Linked DNA regions of Homo sapiens. The protein of the gene in region 1 interacts with the protein of each later gene in a biochemical or structural test. Each region holds a gene or a part of one and is shown in the gene's direction. Other genes may lie near its edges. The genes, in order: TNKS2 and PPP1R12C.

Evidence for each region.
Region 2: the proteins of TNKS2 (region 1) and PPP1R12C interact in a biophysical measurement, tested with the Homo sapiens proteins (one study listed by IntAct).

What each region holds. Positions count from the first base shown.
Region 1 is NC_000010.11:91,846,675-91,850,497, forward strand, and holds part of TNKS2 (poly [ADP-ribose] polymerase tankyrase-2), read left to right. Parts: intron 1-1,708; coding exon 1,709-1,961; intron 1,962-2,837; coding exon 2,838-2,920; intron 2,921-3,823. UniProt on the Homo sapiens protein: Poly-ADP-ribosyltransferase involved in various processes such as Wnt signaling pathway, telomere length and vesicle trafficking.
Region 2 is NC_000019.10:55,107,491-55,111,313, reverse strand, and holds part of PPP1R12C (protein phosphatase 1 regulatory subunit 12C), read left to right. Parts: intron 1-3,823. UniProt on the Homo sapiens protein: Regulates myosin phosphatase activity.

The sequences.
Region 1 (3,823 bases):
TACATTGTTCCACATTACAATAAGAAACTGAGGTAGTTCAGCTGCATTGGTGCTTAAGTAGGTTTTTCTCAGTCAGCTAACAACCCAGCCATATTTACAACATTATCTCTTCAGGGAAATATCTTTCTAGTTCCAAGTTACCTTAAAAGTGAACATTTGGAATTCATTCCACCCATATGTTAGTTGACCAGATACAATTAAGTTACAATGAAGCAAAATGCTGTAGAGAACATACAGGGGCTTTAGAGTCAGACAGACTGGGCCTAGAATTCCAGCTGCACGATTTAAGTTGTACAATCTTATGAACTGCCTAACCTCTAAACCTTAGTTACCTCATCTATAGATAGAGGTAAAATATATCTGGTTAGTATGAGAATTAAATGGGGTAATTTACTTAAAGTCTTTGGCATGGTATCAGGTACATAAAAAGCACTCAATAAATGGTACTATTATTATAAACAAATGTCATTTACAAATTGTGAGTGCAATGGGAATGCATAGACTGGGGGAAGAGAAAGGTGATGACTGGAATAGTCAGAACAAATGACTATGAAACAAGTACTAATTTATTCCTTGCTGAACATTAGTTGAACGTTGTGAAAGAAGAGTACATATTACAAATTAAACAAATTAATGTACCAATAAATGTGAGGACTTTTTTCCATTCTAGCAGATTTTTTTTAATTTTTATTTATTATTATTTTTTTGAGATGGAAGTCTCACTCTGTCACCCAGACTGTAGTGCAGTGGCACAATCTGGGCTCACTGCAACCTCCGCCTCCCAGGTTCAAATGATTCTGCTGCCTCAGCCTCCCGAGTAGCTGGAATTACAGGCATGCGCCACCACACCCAGCTAATAATTTTTGTATTTTCAGTAGAAATGGGGTTTCACCATGTTGGCCAGGCTGACCTCAAGTGATCGACCCACCTCGGCCTCCCAAAGTGCTGGGATTACAGGCATAAGCCACTGCACCTGGCCCCATTCTAGCAGATTTGATTAAAATGATTATCTTTTCTACCCACCTCCTCTCCAAAAAACTTTCAGTTTTAAGGAACAAATACATTGCTGAATATTTTCCAGGAAATACAAACAATTCAGTTTGCTAAAGTTCTGTGTAGGTTGAATTACTTCTTTCAGAGTAACTACAATAGGACTAAAATCTCTTACCTTTTAAAATTGATATTTCTGTAATTCGTTGTGCTTCTCAGTCACAGTATCAGAATTAGGGTTTTGTTCATGCTTTGCCATATTTAAATTATATTTTGACAATATGTGTTTTGGAAGAGATGTTCTCAGTTATGTCTTATATTTTAATAACAGTTTAGCTGGATACAGGTTGAATATCCCTTATCGGAAATGCTTAGAACCAGATGTGTTTTCGGCTTTTGGATATTTTTTTCAGATTTTGAAATATTATACTCAAGCATTATACTTACTGTTGAGCATCCCCGATCCCCAAATCTGAAATCCAAAATGCTCCAATAAACATTTCCTTTGAGCTTCACGTCAACATTTTAAAATTTTCAGATTTGGGATGTTTGACCTGTATTAACCTGTTTGCTTCACTTTTTAAAATGAATAATCCTCCATTGTGATAGTACTGGCACAAATTGCTGGGTTTTCTCATATTTTTAAATATATTTTATTAGGTATAATAGCATTTTAAAACTTGCTTATGGCAGATGTTGTCTCTGACACGTACCCTAGGCGGATGATGTCAGCGCTCTTCTGACAGCAGCCATGCCCCCATCTGCTCTGCCCTCTTGTTACAAGCCTCAAGTGCTCAATGGTGTGAGAAGCCCAGGAGCCACTGCAGATGCTCTCTCTTCAGGTCCATCTAGCCCATCAAGCCTTTCTGCAGCCAGCAGTCTTGACAACTTATCTGGGAGTTTTTCAGAACTGTCTTCAGTAGTTAGTTCAAGTGGAACAGAGGGTGCTTCCAGTTTGGAGAAAAAGGAGGGTGAGACGTTCTACAAAAATAACTTTCTAACTGGTATTGTAGCCCCGTATTTGTCATTTGGGATGCTAAAAAGTCATTTTTAACCTTAAATACAAGGTATTAGTATAAAATTAGTTAACATAGCCTTAAAAAGGTTTAACCTTGTATTACTTTCTTCCTTCCAAGTTGACAGTTGAAGAGTCTTGTGCTACTAACCTACTATTTATTTATTTATTTTTGAGATGGAGTTCTGCTTTTGTCGCCCAGACTGGAGTGCAGTGGCGCGATCTCGGCTCACTGCAACCTCTGCCTCAAGGGTTTAAGCAATGCTCCTGCCTCAGCCTCCCGAGTAGCTGAAATTGCAGGCACCCACCACCATGCCCGGCTAATTTTTGTAGTTTTAGTAGAGATGGGATTTCACCATTTTGGCCAGACTGGTCTTGAACTCCTGACCTCAGGTGATCCACCCGCCTCGGCCTCCCAAAGTGCTGGGATTATAGGCGTGAGCCACCGCCCCCCGCCCTTAATCTGCTCTTTAGATGTAAACCTTTTCTGTTAAAATTCATCCCACCTTATGCAACAGTGTGGAGCTTGTTTTCATAAACTTTTTTGTGAAGTAGCTTACATCCTGAAAGATAGGAAAACTGGTTTTAAAAATATAGATGCAATTAAAAACAAAGTTTAAAATAAAAATGAGAGTACTGAGACTGCCCCATTGATTAGCTTTTTTCTAATGTTGAAATTTTGTAGCTTTCTCTTGTTCAGTATTATATCCTAAGTGGCTATTAATATTATTTTCTTCATATATAGTAACATTACAAGACTTTACTGTTATAGTGATGAAATACATTATTCTGATGTGAAATTCCATTTGTTTTGGATTTTTTTATTTCCCAGTTCCAGGAGTAGATTTTAGCATAACTCAATTCGTAAGGAATCTTGGACTTGAGCACCTAATGGATATATTTGAGAGAGAACAGGTGAGTAGATAAATCATATTGTTTGGATTAGTGTTTTATGGAAACTCAAGGAAAATTTGGAACATACTTGAAATGAGCTGAACCATGTAAGCTATTGGGGGAGAATGTTTTTTAAGAAATGACATCAGTCAGCCTTCTAATTTGGCTTGACCTTGAAACTTCCATTTAGTTTATTCGCACACAGTTGACTCGAGTAGTAATGGTAAAGTAGCTTTCTTGAATGGAAAGTTTAGCTTATTCAGTTCTTGAAGTAAGTTATCCTTGAGCACTGTCTATTCAGTTCTCTCTCAAGCCTGACACTTTTCTAGCTGCTATGGGAAGGTATATGAATATGCCAGCCATATCTGGGCTTTTCTAAGCAGTCTCAGTTTAAAGTACTCTGTCAGAATACATTTACTGATTTTTGTTGTTGTTCAGAAAATAATGTTACTGTAGATTTGCACTCTAAGGGACTTTCATTGTAGTTATGGAATTAGAATAAGAACATATGGCCGGGTGCAGTGGCTCACGCCTGTAATCCCAGCACTTTGGGAGGCCGAGGTGGGTGGATCACTTGAGGTCAGGAGTTCAAGACCAGCCTGGCCAAGATGGTGAAACCCCCGTCTCTACTAAAAATACAAAGAAATTAGCCAGGCATGGTGGCAGGCACCTATAATCCCACCTACTCGGGAGGCTGAGGCAAAGAATTGCTTGAACCCGGGAAGCAGAGGTTGCAGTGAGCCAAGATCACACCACTGCACTCCAGCCTCGGCAACAGAGCAAGACTCGGTCTCAAAAAAAAAAAAAAAAAGAACATATGAAAATTCAAGTTTTAGCATAGATTTTAGAAATTTGTAGAAGGGAGCCAGGCACGGTGGCTCATGCCTGTAATCCCAGCACTTTGGGAGGCTGAGGCGGGTGGAT
Region 2 (3,823 bases), on another chromosome or scaffold:
AATTCACCTACCCTACAATTCACCCAAAGTGCACACTTCAGTGCTTTTTAGTCTATTCACGGGGTCGGGCATTTATGACCACATTGGTTGTAGAACATTTTCATCATCCCCCAACGAAACCCTGCAACCGCTTAGCCATCACCCCCAACCATGCACCCCCCCCTCCCCCCCACCCCACGAAGCCCTCTCTGCCTTCTGTCTGTGGATTTGCTGTTTTGTACACTTCACATAAAGGGAATCATACAGTATAGAATCATCAGCTTTTAACTTTTTGATAGATTTGTGTTCCTTCTCTCTGTCCCTCCCTTGCGATCTCTTCCCAGGTATAGACATAAACACATTTTTTCCTATCCTTTCTCCTCCTGTTTTTTTCCCTCCATCTCTCCCTTCCTTTCTTACCACCCCACCCCTGCCTTTCCATTCCTGAGCCTTTTTTTTTTTTTTGAAACAGAGTTTCACTTTTTGCCCAGGCTGGAGTGCAATGGCATGATTTCGGCTCACTGCAACCTCCACCTCCTGGGTTCAAGCGATTCTCCTGCCTCAGCTTCTGGGTAGCTGAGATTACAGGCGTGAGCCAGCATGCCCAGCTAATTTTGCATTTTTAATAGAGATGGGGTTTCACCATGTTGACCAGGCTGGTCTCCAACTCCTGACCTCAGGCGATCTGCTGGCCTCGGCCTCGCAAAGTGTTGGGATTACAGGCGTGAGCCCGGCCATTCTGAGACTGTGTTGCAGGCATTGTACATCTTCGCCTGATGCACAGCAGGTATCTCCTGCCACAAGGAAAACCTCCTGCAGAACCACAGTAGGGATGCAACACGCTACCCCCTGTGTTGACCTTGATGCTACACTCTCACCCACCGCACCAACCTTGATGCTACACTCTCACCCACCGCACCAACCTTGATGCTACACTCTCACCCACCGCACCAACCTTGATGCTACACTCTCACCCACCGCACCAACCTTGATGCTACACTCTCACCCACCGCACCAACCTTGATGCTACACTCTCACCCACTGCACCAACCTTGATGCTACACTGTTGCCTGCGTTTCTCCTTGACATTCTTTGTAGCCTCTCCCGCTCTGGTTCAGGGCCCAGCTAGGGATCCAGATCTGGGTGATTTAGGCTCCCTCTGTCTGGATCAGTCCTCCTTTTCCCTTGGACCCCAGGGAGGCCGGGAATGGCCTCCAGGGGGTCTGTGAACTTTCTGACGTTGTATTTTCCTGCAGAAATTGCTCATAACTTGCATCAGCTTCTCAGAGGGGGCCATGCTTCTTCCCTCCCGTGGGGTGAGGAGAAGGCTGGGAGGGATACATTGGTGGGGGATATTGGCTTGTAGGATCAGCCAGGAACGAAGACCACTGGGGCCACTGGAAAGACCCTCAGCCGTGCTGCTCGGGGTGGGACTCTGCGGCCCCAAATCACAAGGCGACTGCCTGTGACACCCTGTGACACCCGGCTCCACACAGGAGCCTCAGAGGGGCTGCAGTGCGCAGGACCTGGATCACAGGCTGCACCCCAGCTCTAAGGAGGGCGGGTCTTTTGCACCCCCTGCAGGACACGCCCACATGATGCAGAATTCCCCGAGGTGCTGGCATCCAGACTGGCTCTGGCCATAGTGTGGCCCTGGCAGCCACTCACAGGCAGGGCTGGGAGAGAAGACAGACCGGCCTCAGGCACGACCATCCCCTTCGCTTTCCCTGGCTTACTTGCTGTTTTCCTCTCTCTGGGTCTGGGGTTCAGTGAGAGCACGTGATCTGCTCAGCCAGTCACCTCGTGGCCTGGAGCCACCGCTCCCTCCAACACCGCAAAGTCCTCTGGCCCAGTCGACTCAGGGGCTGAATCGGGCATGACTCTTTGCAAGAACCAAAACCCGTTCCTCCTGGCTCAGGCCGGAAAAGGCCATTTGAGGCCTGGCACAGTGGCTCAGACCTGTAAGCCCAGCACTTTGGGAGGCCAAGATGGGAGGATCTCTTGAGCCCAGGAGTTTGAGACCAGCCTGGGAAACCTAGTGAGAACCCATCTCTATAAAACAAAACACATTAGCCAGGCGTGGGAATGCACGTACGCTCCCAGCTACTCAGTAGGCTGAGGTGAGAAGATTGCTTGAGCCTGGGAGGTGGAAGATGCAGTGAACCACGGTCACTCCAGCCTGGGGGCAAGACCCTGTCTCAACCAAATAAACCAAAACAAAAAAGGCAATTTATATACCCGTGTTCATAGCATCGTTCACAATAGCCCAGAGGTAGGAGCAACCTAGTGCCCATCATCGAATGAATGGAAAATCAACATGTGGCCCATCCATGCGGTGGGACATGATTCAGTCTTCATCCCAGCACTTAGGGAGGCCGAGGCGGGCGGATCACCTGAGGTCGGGAGTTTGAGGCCAACCTGACCAACATGGAGAAACTCTGTCTCTACTAAAAATACAAAATTAGCCAGGGGTGGTGGCACATCCCTGTAACCTCAGCTGCTCAGGAGGCTGAGGCGGGAGAATCACTCGAACCTGGGAGGTGGAGGTTGTGGTGAGCCAAGATCGTGCCACTGCACTCTAGCCTGAGCAACAAGAGGAAACTGTGTCTCAAAACAAAAAACAAAACAAGACAAAACAAAAAACACACAATGTAGATGTATCTTGAGGACATTATGCTAAGTGAAAAGTGAAAATAAGCCAGTCACAGAAGGACAATTACTGTCTGATTCCACGTCTGTGAGGTACCCAGAATAGTCAAAATAATGGAGACAGACAGTAGAATGGCTGTAGTCAGGGACTGGGAGGAGTGGGGAGAATAGGAAGTAGTTTAGTGGGTACACATTTTTTAAAATGATTTTTATATTTTTTGTGGAGACGGGGTTTCACCACGTTGCCCAAGCTAGTCTGGAACTCTTGAGCTCAAGTGATCCACCCACCTTGGCCTCCTAAAGTGCTGGGATTGCAGGTGTGAGCCATTGTCCCTGACCTAGGGTACACGATTTTAATTTTGCAAGATGAAAAAATTCTGGAGATTGGTTGCACAACAACCAATTGTGACTACTTAATGCCACTGAATTGGGGTTAAAATGGTAAATTTTAGGCTGGGCGCGGTGGCTCAGGCCTGTAATCCAGCACTTTGGGAGGCCGAGGTGGGCAGATCACCTGAGGTCAGGAGTTTGAGACCAGCCTGGCCAACATGGTGAAACCCCGTCTCTGCTGAAAATATAAAAGTTAGCCGGGCATAGCGATGTACACCTATAGTCCCAGCTACTCGGGAGGCTGAGGCAGGAGAATTGCTTGAACCCAGGAGATGGAGGTTGCAGTGAGCCGAGATCTCACCACTGCACTCCAGCCTGGGCAACAGAGCAAGACTCAGCATCTCAAAAAAAAAAAAAAAAGATGGTAAATTTTATACTGTGTGTATTTTACCACATTTTTTTCACTCTGAGATGGAGTTTCTTTATTTTTATTTTTATTTTTTATTTTTTTAATTTATACTTTAAGTTCTATGGTACATGTGTACAACATGCAGGTTTGTTACATATGTATACATGTGCCATGTTGGTGTGCTGCACCCATTAACTCGTCATTTACATTAGGTATATCTCCTAATGCTGTCCCTCCCCCCACCCCACGACAGGCCCCAGTGTGTGATGTTCCCCTTCCTGTGTCCAAGTGTTCTCATTGTTCATTTCCCACCTATGAGTGACAACATGCAGTGTTTGGTTTTCTGTCCTTGCGATAGTTTGCTGAGTGATGGTTTCCAGCTTCATCCATGTCCCTACAAAGGACATGAATTCATCCTTTTTTATGGCTGCATAGTATTCCATGGTGTATATGTGC